Linked DNA regions of Homo sapiens: region 1 is linked to region 2. The links come from fine-mapping of genetic effects on gene expression. Tissue or cell type: whole blood. Region 2 holds a variant in brackets; the other region holds the start of a gene. Each region is shown on its reference strand, or each on the opposite one. Region 1 holds the start of RELB (RELB proto-oncogene, NF-kB subunit). Region 2 overlaps PRORP (protein only RNase P catalytic subunit).

What was found. PIP is the estimated chance that this variant, and not a neighbour inherited with it, causes the effect. A credible set is the group of variants that fine-mapping cannot tell apart.
Region 1: it holds the start of RELB, and the variant in region 2 is the best candidate, but not a certain one, in a credible set for the expression of RELB in whole blood (TOPMed, PIP 0.69).

Annotation. Positions count from the first base shown.
Region 1 is chr19:44,996,745-45,005,068 of GRCh38, forward strand. It overlaps RELB (RELB proto-oncogene, NF-kB subunit), which reads left to right and starts at 4,720. Exons shown (of 12, transcript NM_006509.4): 1 at 4,720-4,941; 2 at 6,205-6,252. The coding sequence starts at 4,836. RefSeq lists silencers at 4,544-4,953, 5,274-5,553.
Region 2 is chr14:35,128,442-35,136,765 of GRCh38, forward strand. The region is part of intron 4 of PRORP (protein only RNase P catalytic subunit); the gene reads left to right. All of the region lies in intron 4 of PRORP-PSMA6 (PRORP-PSMA6 readthrough), which reads left to right. Among named protein-coding and RNA genes, the nearest start is that of PRORP, 10 kb to the left of the region's middle. The variant T/G (reference allele first, on the strand shown) is at 4,440.

The DNA of each region.
Region 1 (8,324 bases), not on the chromosome of region 2:
TCACTGCAGCCTTCGCCTGTCGAGTTCAAGCAATTCTCCTGTCTCAGCCTCCTGAGTAGCTGGGACTACAGGCACCTGCTACCAAGCCCAGCTAACTTTTGTATTTTTAGTAGAGACAGAGTTTCACATTTCACCATATTGGTCAGGCTGGTCTCGAACTCCTGACCTCAAGTGATCTGCCTGCCTCGGCCTCCCACAGTGCTGAGATTACAGGCATGAGCCACGGCGCCTGGCTATCCTTTATTTATTTATTTATTTATTTATTGAGACAAAGTCTTGCTCTGTCGCCCAGGCTGGAGTGCAGTGGCGCGATCTCGGCTCACTGTAAGCTCTGCCTCCCAGGTTCAAGCAATTCTTCTACCTCAGCCTCCTGAATAGCTGGGATTACAGGAGTGCGCCACCACGTCCAGCTAATTTTTGTATTTTTAGTAGAGATGGTATTTTACCATGTTGATCAGGCTGGTCTCAAACTCCTGACCTCATGATCCACCCGCCTCAGCCTCACAAAGTGCTGGGATTACAGACGTGAGCCACTGTGCCTGGCCCCTTTTTATTTATTTGTGTTCTTTTTGAGATGGAGTCACTGTCACCCAGGCTGGAGTGAGTGCAGTGGCACGATCTCACTTCACTGCAACCTCCGCCTCCTGGGTTCAAGTGATTCTCCTGCCTCAGCCTCCTGAATAGCTGGGATTATAGGTGCCCGCCACCACACCAGCTAATTTTTGTATTTTTAGTAGACATGGGGTTTCACCATGTTGGCCAGGCTGGTCTTGAACTCCTGACCTCAGGTGATCTGCCTGCCTCAGCCTCCCAAAGTGTTGGGATTACAGGCATGAGCCACCGTGCCTGGCCCTGACATGTCCTTTTAGTCATTCAGCAAACTTTTTTTTTTTTTTTTTTTTTTTGAGACAGTCTCACTCTGTCACCTAGGCTGGAGTGCAGTGGCGTGATCTCAGCTCACTGCAGCCTCCACTTCCTGGGTTCAAGTGATCGTCCTGCCTCAGCCTCCCTAGTAGCTGGGACTACAGGCACATGCCACCACACCCAGTTAGTTTTGTATTTTTAGTAGAGACGGGGTTTCACCACGTTGGCCAGGCTGGTCTTGAACTCCTGACCTCAGGTGATCCGCCTGCCTTGGCCTCCCAAAGTGCTGGGATTACAGGCATGAGCCACTGCACCCAGCCTCAACAAACATTTTTGAGGCCTGGCATTGGCAAGAGGCAGAGAGGAATCAGGAGAGCTTCTGGTCCTATAACAATTGGAGCTGCTATTTGTCATCCTTATCATAAGCCAAGCACTAGTGTAAGTGCTGCATGTGGTTGGCTTCATCCATTACATTTAATATTATTCAGTGTCCTCGTCACCTTACTGGTCCATCACTCTGCCCTCATCTCTACCCCTTTCCTGTCAGTCACTCTGCACCAGCCTTCTTGCTATTCCTTAAGCATGCCATGCATGTTCCTACCACAGGGCCTTTGCACGTGCTAGCCCCTGTGCTTTGAACACTCTCCCCCAGATATCCACATGAATCCCTCACCTCCTTTGACTCCCTGTTCAAATGGCACCTCTCAGACCCTGATCTTCCTAACCCAAACTATCTTCCGAACTCCTTCTCGTTATCCTGCTCTATCCTGTAATACTGCCATCACCATCAGACATAATATTTGCTTATCTGTTTTCCATCTGTCTCCTCACTTGGATTTCCTTGATGGCAAGGGCTTTTTGTCTGCTGTGTGCCTTGCTATGTCCCTAGCTTTTAGAGCAGTGCCTGACACTGTTACGCTGTGTGTAATAACTGTAAATTGAAGAGCCAGGCACAGTGGCTCACGCCTGTAATCCCAGCGCTTTGGGAGGTTCGGGCAGAAGGATCACTTGAGGCTAGGAGGTCAAGATCAGCCTGGGCAACAGCAAAATCCCATGTCTTAAATAAAAGAAAGAAGACCGGGTGTGGTGGCTCACGCCTGTAATCCCAGCACTTTGGGAGGCCAAGGCAGGCGGATCACGAGGTCAGGAGATTGAGACCATCCTGGCTAACACGGTGAAACCCTGTCTCTACTAAAACTACAAAAAATTAGCCAGGCATGGTGGCGGGCGCCTGTAGTCCCAGCTACTCGGGAGGCTGAGGAGCAGAATGGCGTGAACCCGGGAGTAGGAGCTTGCAGTGAGCCGAGATCGCGCCACTGCACTCCAGCCTGGGTGGCAGAGGAAGACTCCATCTCAACAAAAAAAAAAAAAGAAAGAAATAGGGCTGGGCACAGTGGCTCACGACTGTAATCCCAGCACTTTGGGAGGCCAAGACAGGCGGATCACCTGAGGTCAGGAGTTCAAGACCAGCCTGGACAACATGGTGAAACCCCATCTCTACTAAAAAAAAAAAAAAAAAAAGAAAGAAAGAAATGTAGTCCCAGCACTTTGGGAGGCTGAGGTAGGCAGCTCGCTTGAATCCAGGAGTTTGAGACCAGCTTGGGCAACATGGTGAAACCTCATCTCTGCTAAAAACACAAAAATTAGGCCAGGCATGGTGGCGCACACCTGTGGTCCCAGCTCACCAGCTGTGTGGCCTCAGGCAACTGACTTCATCTCTCTGAGCTTCAGTTTCCCGTCTGTAAAGTGGGTCTAATAATAGGACGGTCATGAGTATTAAATAAAATGATGTTAATAGTTAGTTGCCCTTTGGCCAGGTGCACTGGCTCAGCCTAAGCAACAGATCCTCTCTCTACAAAAATAGAAAACAGGCTGGGCGCAGTGGCTCATGCCTGTAGTCCCAGCTACTTGGGAAGCTGAGGCAGGAGAATCGCTTGAACCCGGGAGGCAGAGATTGCAGTGAGCTGAGATCGCACCACTGCACTGCAGCCTGGGTGACAGAGCGAGACTCCATCTCTCAAAAAAAAAAAGAAAGAAAAGAAAAGAAAACATTAGCCGGATGCGGTGGTGTGTGCCTGTAGTCCCAGCTACTCTGGAGGCTGAGGTGAGAGGATCCCCTTAGTCCAGGAGGTTGAGGCTGTGGTGAACCATGTTCCTGCCACTGCACTCCAACCTCGGTGACAGAGTGACACCCTGCCTCAAAAAAAAAAAAAAAGTTCACATTTGTATATAGCACCCACATGTGCCAGGCCCTGTTCTAAGAATTTTGTGTTTTAAATATTTGTGTCTATTAATTTGTGTGACCTTGGAGAAATTAATTTTGCCGGGTTTCAGTTTTCTCATCTGCTATGTGGGGATCAATAACACCATATACTTCACACAATTGTTGTGAACATTCAACTTACAGAGTTATTTCTTTTTCTTTTTGAGACAAGGTCTCACTCTGTCACCCAGGCTGGAGTGCAATAGCGTCATCACAGCTCACTGCAGCCTCAACCTCCCAGGCTCAAGCAATCCTCCTGCCTCGGCCTCCCAAAGTATTGGGGTTACAGGTGTGAGCCACCGTGCCTAGCCAGAACACCCAAATTTTATACAAGCAAAGGAAAGACAACAAACCCTGCATCTGTGGTCTGAGAGCGCCTGGCATCCAACTTAGAACCTAATAGATCACCTAGTCGTTCTCAGGAATATGAGAGGCTTAGGAATGTGATCTAGCCAAATGGCTGCCCCTCTTTCAGCCTGAGTCCCTTCTGCAATAATCCTATCATATGCTTCTGGCGCTGGTGATAGGGATGAGCTCAGGGTTTAGGCACACAGCTCAGGATGTATACGGAGGCTACACTGCTGCCATTCGCAGACTGAATAACTGAGCTTTTGAGCTCAAAGTGGTCTGGGCTATTTATGGGTAACTTTCAGGGGCTGCAGGGAGGAACAAACCAATAAATAAAACATCCATGCATTCATCCAATAAACTTTTTTTTTTTTGAGATGGGAGTCTCGCTCTGTTGCCCAGGCTGGAGTGCAGTGGCACGATCTCAGCTCACTGCAACCTCCGCCTCCCAGGTTCAAGCTATTCTCCTGCCTCAGCCTCCGGAGTAGCTGGCATTACAGGCGCACACCAACACGCCCAGCTAATTTTTGTATTTTTAGTAGAGATGGGATTTCACCATGTCGGTCAGGCTGGTCTCGAAATCCTGACCTCGTGATGTGCCTGCCTCGGCCTCCCAAAGTGCTGAGATTACAGGCATGAACCACCGCGCCCGGCCTCCAATAAACATTTATTGGGCACCTACGGTGTTCCAGGCGCTGGTCTAGGCGTTGGGGTTACAACAACGCACAAAACATAAATTCTGAAGCTGACACGCTAGCTTTAAACGTTCCTTAAATATCTTCATCCTCAATTTACGGTTGAGGAAACTGAGGTGTAGCGAGACCTTGGAGGTTTCCGAAATATTATTATGGATGGCAGGTGTAGAGCCCTGCCAACCTCTCGATCCTGAAGCTCCCCTTCCAGCCTGAGAAACGGCAGGTTCAAGTCCCACTGGGAGACCAAAGCGGGGAGCGGCTCAGTTTGCCGGCTTGCTCAATGGGTAAGGCGTGATGGCTCTAAGCAGGCCTCAGTTGTCTCGTCCAGAGCAATGGGCAGCGACGCCTGCCCAACCCCTCCTGAGCGCCCAGCCTCCCTTTCCCGGCCGGCCCCGCCCCCGCGATCACGTGACGCGTGGGGGTTTTCCCGTTCCCCAGGCGTGACGTCACGGCGGGGTGCAGACCAATGGGCGCGCAGGCCGGCGGCGCCGGGGAATTCCGCCGCCCCGCCCCCGCCCGCCGCCCGCCCGGCCCGGCCCCGCGCCCCGCGCAGCCCCGGGCGCCGCGCGTCCTGCCCGGCCTGCGGCCCCAGCCCTTGCGCCGCTCGTCCGACCCGCGATCGTCCACCAGACCGTGCCTCCCGGCCGCCCGGCCGGCCCGCGTGCATGCTTCGGTCTGGGCCAGCCTCTGGGCCGTCCGTCCCCACTGGCCGGGCCATGCCGAGTCGCCGCGTCGCCAGACCGCCGGCTGCGCCGGAGCTGGGGGCCTTAGGTAAGCGGGGCTGGGGTTCAGGAGAGGGGTCTGGGGCGGGGCTGGAGATGCGGGGATTCTGGCGGTCCCGGAGTAGTCTGGGGGTTCCTATGGGAGTCTAAGGGTTTCGCGGGGGCAGAGTGAGGGTTCCTGAGACACTGTATTAGGGCGTAGGAAGAAGGCAGAGGGTGATGAGGGGGTACGGCCCGAGGTTCGAGCGAGGCGTCCCGCTGTAGAGTGAGAGGGGGCGGGGCCTGACCCTGAGGCAAAGAAGGGGGCGTGGCCTGACTCAGAGAAGGCGGAGCGAAAGCTGCTCTTGGGCGGTATCGGGGCGGGGCCGGGCCCAGAGAGGGAGAAGAGGGGCGGGATCCGACCCGGACTATGAGAAGAGGGCCGGGCCTGACTCAAAAAAGGAAGCAGGGCCCTACGCTGAGGGGTGAGGGGGCGGGGCCTGGCCGTGAGGGCAGGAAGGGGGCGGGGCCTGAGTTGGCCGAAAGAAGGGGAAGGGGCGGGGCCTGACTCTGGCCGAGTGGAGGGGAAGGGCCTGTTACCCAAAAAAGCAGGGCGGGGCCCGACACAGAGAATGAGGAGGGGGTGGGGCTTGCCTCCAGACGGAGAAGCGGAGCCTTGACATTGAAAAAATTAAAAGTGGTCTGACCCTGACAGGAGGATGTTTTTTTTTGTTTGTTTTTTGTTTTTTTCTTTTGAGATGGAGTCTCGCTCTGTCGCCCAGGCTGGAGTGCAGTGGCACGATCTAGGCTCACTGCAACCTCTGCCTCCCGGGCTCAAGCAGTTCTCCTGCCTCAGCCCCCCGAGTAGCTGGAATTACAGGTGCCCGCCACCACACCCGGCTAATTTTTGTAGTTTTACTAGAGACGGGGTTTCACCATGCTGGTCAGACTGGCCTCGAACTTCTGACCTCAGGTGATCCGCACGCCTCGGCCTCTCAAAGTGCTGGGATTACAGGTGTGAGCCCTTGTGCCCAGCGGGATGGGGACTTTTTAAACTGAGATTGAGATGGGGTCCCCTCCAGGCCCAACTTTAAGGGAGAAAAGGAGCGGGCCCTGAGTGTGATGAAGGGTGGGGCGAACCACAGAAACTAAAGGCCAGGACCTGTCCATGATTTAGCTGGTAAGCCTGGCCAGACGCAGGGGGGCAGTCAGGGCGAGGGGCCTGATCCAGAGGGGAAGGGCTAGAAGAGGAAGGGGTGGGGCTTCCTTGGGATATTCTCTGGTCCTCTGGCTGCCCCCCATCACCTCCTGAGACGTTTCTCCTTCTCTGCAGGGTCCCCCGACCTCTCCTCACTCTCGCTCGCCGTTTCCAGGAGCACAGGTGAGCAGCCCTCCACAGTTCCTGCCCACTCGCTCATGCAGGATGAGGTTGGGAGGACTCCACAGAGATGTCTCTGTTTGGGGGTTCACGAGGTCCACCTCAGCTTTCTCCTGACAGGGTGCATCCCTCCCTGCCAGTTGAGATGGGCCCCCTAGGTTTTCTTACCTCTTGGACTGTTAAGAGCGTGACAGGTGGCCGGGCGCGGTGGCTCACGCCTGTAGTCCCAGCACTTTGGGAGGCCGAGGCGGACGGATCACGAGGTCAGGAGATCGAGACCATCCTGGCTAACACGGTGAAACCCCGTCTCTACTGAAAATACAAAAACAAAATTAGCCGGGCGTGGTGGCGGGCTCCTGTAGTCCCAGCTACTCGGGAGGCTGAGGCAGGAGAATGGCGTGAACCTGGGAGGCGGAGCTTGCAGTGAGCCGAGATCGCACCACTGCACTCCAGCCTGGGAGACAGAGCGAGACTCCGACTCAAAAAAAAAAAAAAAAAAAAAAAAAGCGTGACAGGTAAATCTTACCACCTATCCATGCGCAAAGGCTTCTTTAGAGATTCACTGTGGCTTAGTAGAAGGTAATCACTGCCATCCTGGGCTTTGGAGCTGGGGTTTACATACTGCTGTCATCGCCCCTCCCTGTGTGAATGTCTGCAAGTCAGTTCCCCAGTTCAGGCCTCAGTTTTCCTCATCTGTAAGATGGACAGAATAACAGTGCCTCTCTTTCAGGGAAATTGAGAGTATTCAATGAATTGATACAGGTACACTTTCCAAGCAGTATCTGGCACACAGTAAGGGTTCAGTAAGTGTTAACTGTTAGTGGTATAATAATAATAACGATAATAATTATTATTACTAGACAGTCTATAACAGTGGTTCATTTTTGGTGTGTGTGTGGGTTTTTTTTGTCTGTTTTTTGTGTTTTTTTTTTTTTTTTTTTTTTTTTTGAGACAGAGTCTCGCTGTGTCACCCAGGCTGGAGTACATTGATGCGATTTTGACTCACTGCAATCTCCACCTCCCGGGTTCAGCAATTCTCCTGCCTCAGCCTCCTGAGTAGCTGGGATTACAGGCACCCGCCACCACAACCCACTTTGTGTCTTTAGTAGAGATGGGGTTTCACCATGTTGGCCAGGCTGGTCTTGAACTCCTGACCTCAGGTAATCCGCCCGCCTCAGCCTCCCAAAGTGCTGGGATTACAGGTGTGAGCCACCTCGCCTGGCCAGACAGTGGTTCTTTTTTTTTTGAGACGGAGTTTCATTCCTGTTGCCCAGGCTGGAGTACAATGGCGCGATCTCGGCTCACTGCAACCTCCACCTCTCAGGTTCGAGCAATTCTCCTGCCTCAGCCTCCCAAGTAGCTGGGATTACAGTCATGTGCCACCACGCTCAGCTAATTTTTTGTATTTTTAGTAGAGACAGGGTTTCTCCATGTTGGTCAGGCTGGTCTCGAACTCCTGACCTCAAAGGATCCGCCCTCCTCGGCCTCCCAAAGTGCTGGGATTACAGGCGCGAGCCACCGTGCCTGGCCAGACAGTGGTTCTTAAACCATGTGCATCAGAATCATCCATAGCGCTAGTTAAAACATAATGTCGCCTGATGTGGTGGCTCATGCCTGTAATCCCGGCACTTTGGGAGGCCGAGGTAGGCTCATCACCTGAGGTCGGGAGTTCTAGACCAGGCTGACCAACATGGAGAAACACCATCTCTACTAAAAATACAAAATTAGCTGGGCGTGGTGGCGCATGCCTGTAATCCCAAATATTCAGGAGGCTGAGGCAGGAGAATCACTTGAACCTGGGAGGTGGAGGTTGCCGTGAGCCGAGATCATGGCATTGCACTCCAGCCTGGGCAACAAGAGTGAAACTCCGTCTCAAACAAACAAACAAAAAAACAGCCGGCCGTGGTGGCTCACTCCTGTGATCCCAGCACTTTGGGAGGTCGAGACAGGCAGATCACAAGGTCAGGAGTTCAAGACCAGCCTGGCCAATATGTTGAAACCCCATCTCTACTAAAAATACAAAAAAAATTAGCCAGGCGTGGTGGCAGGCACCTGTAATCCCAGCTACTTGGGAG
Region 2 (8,324 bases):
TTGAGCAGTGAAGCCGTCAGGTCCTGGGCTTTTCTTTGCTGGGAGACTTTTTATTATGGCTTCGATCTCGTTACTTGTTATTGGTCTCTTCATGTTTTTTATTTCTTCATGGTTCAGTCTTAATATATTGAATCTGTCTAGGAATTTGGCCATTTCCTGTAGGTTTTCCAATTTATTGGCATATGGTTGCTCATAGTAGCCACTAATGATCCTTTGAATTTCTGCAGTATTTGTTGTAATGTCTTCTTTTTCATCTCTGATTTTATTTGGGTCTTCTCTCCTTTTTTCTTAGTCTGGCTAAAGGTTTATCAATTTTGTTTAACTTTTCAAAAAACCAACTTTTTGTTTCATGATCTTTTGTATGGTTTTCTTAATTCCAATTTCATTTATTTCTACTCTGATCTTTATTATTTAGTCTCTCCATTTTGGGTTTGGTTTACTCTTGCTTTTCTAGTTCTTTAAGACGCATATTTGGCCGGGCGCGATGGCTCATGCCTGTAATCCCAGCACTTTGGGAGACCAAGGCTGGTGGATCACCTGAGGTCAGGAGTTCGAGACCGGCCTGGCTAACATAGTGAAACCCCGTTTCTACTAAAAATACAAAAAAAAAAAAAAAATTAGCTGGGCATGGCGGCGCACGCTGGTAATCCCAGCTACTCGTGAGGTTGAGGCAGGAGAATCGCTTGAACCCAGGAGGCGGAGGTTGAAGTGAGCCGAGATCACGCCATTGCACTCCAGCTTGGGCAACAAGAGTGAAACTCCATCTCAAAAAAAAAAGATGCATATTTAGGTTGTTTATTTTAAGTTTTTCTTCTGTTTTGATATAGGCACTTATAGCTGCTTTTGTTATATCCCACCGTGCCTAGATACATTTAATGTTATTATTGATAAGTAAGGACTTAGTCCTGCCATTTTGTTTTCTGGTTGTTTTGTGGTCTTATTTTTTCCTTCCTTTCTTCCCTTTAGTGAAGATGATTTTCTCTGGTGATATAATTTAGTTTCTTGCTTTTTATTTTTTGTGTATCTGTTGTATTTTTCTTTTTTTTTTTTTGAGATGGAGTATTGCTCTGTCGCCCAGGCTAGAGTGCCGTGGTGCGATCTTGGCTCGCTGCATCCTCCACCTCCTGGGTTCAGGAGATTCTCCTGCCTCAGCCTCTTGAGTAACTGGAATTACAGGCGCACACCACCATGCCCAGCAAATTTTTTTTTTTGTATTTTTAGTACAGACAGGGTTTCACCATGTTGGTCAGGCTGGCCTCGAACTCCTGACCTCATGATCTGCCTTCCTCAGCCTCCCAAAGTGCTGGGATTATAGGCGTAAGCCACCGTGCCCAGCCTTGTATGTTTTTTGATTGGAGGTTACCATGAGGCTCACTAATACTTAACTATAGCCTATTATTTTAAGCTGATAATAATTTAACACTGTATAAACAAACAAGCAAAAAGAAAACTAATAAAAACTCTACACCTTTACTTTGTCTCCCTGCTTTTTAACTTTTTATTGTTTCTATTTATATCTTACTGTACTATCAATGTCTTGAAAAGTTATAGTCGTTATTATTTTTGATTGGTTCATTGTTTAGACTTTCTTTTTTTTTTTTTTTTTTGAGACGGAGTCTCGCTCTGTTGCCTAGGCTGGGGTGCAGTGGCACAATCTCAGCTCACTGCAGCCTCTGCCCCCCAGGTTCAAGTGATTCTTCTGCCTCAGCCTCCCGAGTAGCTGGGACTACAGGTGCCCGCCACCATGCCCGGCTAATTTTTTTGTATTTTTTAGTTGAGACGGGGCTTCACCATGTTAACCAGGATGGTCTTGATCTCCTGACCTCATGATTTGCCCGCCTCGGCCTCCCAAACTGCTGGGATTACAGGCGTAAGGCACTGCCTCACTAAACTCATTGTTTAGTCTTTCTAAAGATAAGAGTAGTTTTAGTTTACACACCATAGTTACAGTGTTATAATATACTATGTCTTTTTGTGTACTTATTATTAACAGTGAGTTATGTACCCTCAGATGATTTCTTATTGCTCATTAATGTCCTTTTCTTTTTTTTTTTCATTGAGATGGAGTCTCACTCTGTCGCCCAGGTTGGAATGGAGTGGCACGATCTCAGCTCACTCCAACCTCCGCCCCCACTGGGTTCAAGTGATTCTTGAGTCTTACCCTCCCAAGTAGCTAGGATTACAGGTACCCTCCACCAGACCCGGCTAATTTTTGTATTTTTAGTAGAGACAGGGTTTCACCATGTTGGCCAGGCTGGTTTCGAACTCCCAACCTTACTTTATCCAGCTGCGTCGGCCTCCCAAAATGCTGGGATTACAGGTGTGAGCTACTGCACCCGGCCTATGTCCTTTTCTTTCTGCCATTTTTTTTTTTTAAATATAGAGACAGGGTCTTACTATGCTGCCCAGGCTGGTCTCAAACTCTTGGGCTCAAGTGATCTTCCCACCTTGGCCTCCCAAAGTGCTGGAATTATAGGCGTGAGTCACCAGAGTAACGGTCCTTTTCTTCTTCTTCTTTTTTTTTGAGGCAGTCACTCTGTCGCCCAGGCTGGAGTGCAATGGCGCGATCTCAGCTTACTGCAACCTCCGCCTCCTGGGTTCAAGTGATTCTCCTGCCTCAGCCTCTGAATAGCTAGGATTATAGGCGTGCACCACCAGACCTGGCTAGTTTTTGTATTTTTAATAGAGACGGGGTTTCACCATGTTGACCAGGCTGGTCTTGAACTCCTGACCTCAGGTGATCCACCCACCTCGGCCTCCCAAAGTGCTGGAATTACAGGCATGAGCCACCACAGCTGGCCATCCTTTTCTTTCTGATTGAAGTACTCCTTAGCATTTATTGTAGGATAGGTCTGGTGTTGATGTAATCTCTCAGCTTTTGTTTGTCTGGGAAAGTCTTTATTTCTCCTTCATGTCTGAAGGATATTTTCACTGCATATACTATTCTGGGGTAAAAGTGTTTTTCCTTCAGCACTTTAAATATGTCATGCCATTCTTTCCTGGCCTGTAAGGTTTCCACTGAAAAGTCTGCTGCCAGATGTATTTTAGCTCCATTGTATGTTATTTGTTTTTTTCTCTAGTTGCTTTTTGGTTTTTTTTTTTTTTGAGACAGAGTCTTGCTCTGTCACCCAGGCTGGAGTGCAGTGGTGCTATTTCGGCTCACTGCAACCTCCACCTCCTGGGTTCAAGCGATTCTCCTTCTTCAGCCTTCCGAGTAGCTGGGATTACAGGCATCTGCCACCATACCCAGCTAATTTTTATATTTTTAGTAGAGACAGGGTTTCACTATGTTAGCCAGGCTGATCTCGAACTCCTGACCTCAGGTGATTCGCCTGCCTCAGCCTCCCAAAGTGCTGGGATTATAGATAGGTGTGAGCCACCACACCTAGCCAATCCTTTCTTTTTTTCTTTTTTTGAGAAGAAATCTCACTCTTGTCCCCTAGGCTGGAGTGCAGTGGTGCTATTTTGGCTCACTGCAACCTCCGCCTCCCAGGTTCAAGTGATTCTCCTGCCTCAGCCTCCCAAGTAGCTGGGATTACAGGCACCTGCCACCACGCCTGGCTAATTTTTGTATTTTTAGTAGCGACGGGTTTCACCATGTTGGCCAGGCTGGTCTCGAACTCCTGACCTGAGGTGATCCGTCCGCCTCGGCCTCCGAAAGTGCTGGAATTACAGGCATGAGCCACTGCGCCCAGCCCCAATCCTTTCTTTATCCGTTGAAGGTTGGATTATTCAACTGGGTGTGGTGGCTCACACTTGTAATCCCAGCACTTTGGGAGGCTGAGGTGGGTGGATCAGCTGGGGTCAGGAGTTCGAGACCAGCCTGGCCAACGTGGTGAAACCCCGTCTCTACAAAATATATAAAAATTAGCCAGGCGTGGTGGCGGGCCTCTGTAATTCCAGTTACGTAGGAGGCTGAGGCAGGAGAATCGTTTGAACCTGGGAGCCGGAGGTTGCGGTGAGCCAAGGTCACACTACTGCACTCCAGCCTGGGCAACAAGAGCAAATCTCCATCTCAAAAAAATAAAAAACAAGAAAAAAAAGAAAGTTGGATTATTCGTCCAGGCATTGTGGCTCACGCCTGTAATCCCAGCACTTTGGGAGGCCGAGGTGGGTGTGAATCACCTGAGTTTAGGAGTTTAAGACCAGCCTGGCCAACATGGTGAAACCCTGTCTCTACTAAAAATAAAAAAAAATTAGCTGGAAATGGTGGTGCGTGCCTGTAATCCTACCTACTCGGGAGGCTGAAGCAGGGGAATCATTTGAACCCGTGAAGCGGAGGTTGTAGTGAGCCAAGATTGCGCCACAGTACTCCAGCCTGGGCGACAGAGTGAGACTCCATCAAAAAAAAAAAAAAAAGGGAAGAAGGAAAGGAAAGGAAAGCAAAGCAAAGGAAAGGGAAGGAAGAAGGAAGAAGGAAGGAAAGTAAGTTTGATCAT[T/G]CAATGCTTTGAGTTAGTGTTTTTTTGTTTTGTTTTGTTTTGTTTTGTTTTGTTTTTTTGAGACGGAGTGTTGTTCTGTTGCCCAGGCTGGAGTGCAATGGCATGATCTTGGCTCACTGCAACCTCTGCCTCCCAGGTTCAAGCGATTATCCTGCCTCAGCCTCTTGAGTAGCTGGGATTACAGGTTCACGTCACCACGCCCAGCTAATTTTTGTATTTTTAGTAGAGATGGGGTTTCACCATGTTGGCCAGGCTGGTCTCGAACTCCTGACCTCATGATCTGCCCACTTGGCCTCCCAAAGTGATGGGATTACGGGCGTGAGCTACCATGCCCAGCCCTAACTGTGTATTTTCAAATAGCCTGTCTTCAATCTCACTAATTCTTCTGTGTGATCCCTTCTGCTGTTAAAGGACTCTGATGCATTCTTCAGCATGCCAGTTACATTTTTCAGCTTCAGAATTTCTGCTTGATTCTTTTTAATTTTTTTTCAATCTCTTTGTTAAATTTATCTGGTAGAATTCTGAATTCCTTCTTGGGTTATCTTGAATTTCTTTGAGTTTACTCAGTAGAGCTATTTTGAATTCTCTGTCTGAAAGGTCACACATCTGTTTCTCCAGTATTGTTCCCTGCTGCCTTATTTAGTTCATTTTGTGATGTCCTGTTTTCCTGGATGGTCTTGATACCATGTCTGGGCATTGAAGAGTTAGGTATTTATTGTAGTCTTTGCAGTCTGGGCTTGTTTGTACCTTTCCTTCCTGAGAAGGCTTTCCAGATACTTAAAAGGACTTGGGTGTTGTGATCTAAGTTGTATGTGCTTTAGGGGGCAGCCAAAGCCCAGTAATGCTGTGGTAAGAGGTACTGCCTTCATGGCCTTGAACAAGATCAGGGAGAATTCTCTGGATTACTAGGCAGAAGCTCTTGTTCTCTTCCCTTACTTTTTCCTAAACAAACAGTCTCTCCCTCTCATTCTGAGCCACCTGGAGCTGAGGACGTAGTCACACAAATACCCTTGTGGCCACCACCACTAGAACTGTGCTGGGCCAGACCTGAAGCCAGCAGAGCACTGGATCTTGCCCAAAGCCTGCTTAACTACTCCCTGGCTACTGTCTGTGTTCACTCAAGGCCCTGGGGCACTACAATCAGCAGTTGGTAAAGCCAGCCAGGCCTGTGTTCTTCCCTTCAGGGCGACAAGTTCCCCCAGGCCTCAGCAGGTCCAGAAGTGCCATTTGGGAGCCAGGGAGTAGAGTCAAAAATCTTAGAAGTCTACCTGGTGTTCTGTTGTATTGTGGCTGAGCTGGCATTCAAATGATAAGACACAGTTCTTCCCACTCTTCCCTCCCGTTTCCAAAAGCAGAGGAGCCCCACCGTGTGGCCACCGCCACCACCAGCCCACAGGGAGTTCTGCCAGGCTCCCACTGATGTTCTCATAAGGCCGAAAGGCTCTTCAGTCAGCTTGTGGTGCATGCTGCCTGGCCTGGGACTCACCCTTAGTGCTCTACCCACCTCTGGCTGAGGTGGTACCTGAAGCTAGCAATATCAGAGTCTCACTCAAGGCCCATGATGTACTACCTGGATATTGCTGCTGCTTATTCAGGGCCCAAGGGCTCTTCAGTTAGCAGGTGATGAATCCTTCCATGATTGGGTTCTTCCCTTCAAGGCAGTGAGTTCCCTTCTGGCTCAGAGTGTGTCTAGAAATGTCCAGGAGCTAGGGCCTAGAAAAGGGGGTGTCTCATGACTCTGACCGGTACCCCATCCTGCTGTAGCTGAGCTGGTGTCCAAGATGCAAGACAAAGTCCTCCCCACTCTTCCATCTCTTCTCAAGTAGAAGGAGTGGGTCTGTTTAGGAGACTGTGAGATGTGCGGCCTGGGCTTAGGGGAGGTATGGCACCAGTACTCCCCTAGCTATCGTCTCAGTAGGTCACATGCCCCTACCAGTCCACTGGCTCTGAGCCCAGTTCACCACTAGGACTCACCTAAGAGTTGCAATCCTTGTGGCTTAGACTGCCTTTCAAATTTATTTACGGGCCTGGAGCACTTTGGCCCATGGTGGTGAGGCTTGTGGGAACTCCAGTTTCAACCACTGGGATGGGCAATTTCCCTCTGGCTAGAGCTAGTTTAAATGCCCCTTCTGTGGGTGGGTATCAGCTGAGTTTGTTCTATTTTTGCTTTCTGCTATAACAGGGCAGCACTGAGTTCAATGCAGTGTCTCACAATTGCTGCACTCTCCCTCTCCCAAACACTCAGAGTCTTTCTCTGCACCACATTGCTGCTGCAGGGGGATGGGAGAGGAATGGCAGTGGTGATTCAAGACTGTTTTTCCTACCTCTTCAGTGCCTCTTTCAGTGATACAAAGTTAAAACCAGGTACTGTGAGTCCTCACCTGATTTTTGGTTCTTTTGAAGGTGCTTTTTTTACATGTGTAGATAGTTGTTAAATTGGTGTCCTTGCAAGTGGACGATCAGTGGAGCCTTTTATTCTGCCTTCTTGCTCCACCCCTTCTCCTCTGTCTATGGTACTTTTGTCCTGCAGAGTTGAGTAGATATAAAGGAGAACATGTGGCCTACAGAGCCTGAAATATTTACCATTTGGCCCTTAACAGAAAAAAATTGCTGATCCCTGGTATCAATGAATATCATAAACCTCTGGAGAAGTAATGAGTGTGAAGGAGCAGTGGCATCCAGGAGAGGGCCTCTCCTTTCTCATTGGTTGGTCCTATAGCATACTATAGGATAATGAGCAGCTATTATTAAGAAACATTGTCATAGGTTCTGGGGAGCCATTAACGTGTTTTAAGCAGGCCGGGCATAGTGGCTTATGCCTGTAATCCCAGCACTTTGGGTGGCCGAGGCGGGCAGATCATGAAGTCAGGAGTTTGAGACCAGCCTGGGCAATATGGGAAAACCCCGTCTCTACTAAAAATACAAAAATTAGCTGGTCGTGGTGGCGTGCACCTGTAGTCCCAGCTACTAAGGAGGCTGAGGCAGAAGAATCGCTGGAACCTGGGAGGCGGAGGTTGCAGTGAGCTGAGATCATGCCACTGCACTCCAGCCTGGGCGTCAGAGCAAGACTCTGTCTCAAAAAAAAAAAAAAAAAGTGTTTTAAGCAAAAGTATGATATGTATATTTTAGAGAGACCTCTCTGGCAGCTGGTTGGAAAAAGGAGTTGAAAAGGATAAGATTGAGGCACTGGAGTTGAGTCAGACGGCTGCTGAGTGGTCCAGGTGTGGGATGATGAGGGAAATGAAAGCCAGAATAAGGGTAGAGAAGGACCAGCTCAGCTTTGAGAACATTTTAGGAGATAAAAATTTCACCATTTGGTTTGGCTGCAGTGATGGGAGAAGACAGGATGATGTTCAGGTTTTCGGCTTGGGTGATGGGGTGAACAAACTCTCACTCCCTAATTCCTTTTCTTTTGTCACCCTGGAAAGATGCCATCTACCAAGAACAGGTATGAGGAGAAGATAATTGAATATCCGACAACGGGTTTTTTTGTTTTTTTGGTTTTTTTTTTGAAACAGAGTTTCGCTGTTGTTGCCCAGGCTGGAGTGCAATGGCGCAATCTCTGCTTACCGCAACCTCCGCCTCTCGGGTTTAAGCAATTCTCCTGTCTCAGCCGCCTGAGTAGCTGGGATTACAGGCATGCACCACCACACCCGGCTAATTTTGTATTTTTAGTAGAGACGGGGGTTTCTCCATATTGGTGAGGCTGGTCTCGAACTCCCAGCCTCAGGTGATCCACCCACCTCGGCCTCCCAAAGTGCTGGGATTACAGGTGTGAGCCACCGCACCTGGCCCATATTGGGTTTTAATGTCAGCAGAAGATCCAGGACTTGGGTTCCAGCTTACAGGGGAGAGTTAATGCTGGAGGTTTGGGGACCATCACAT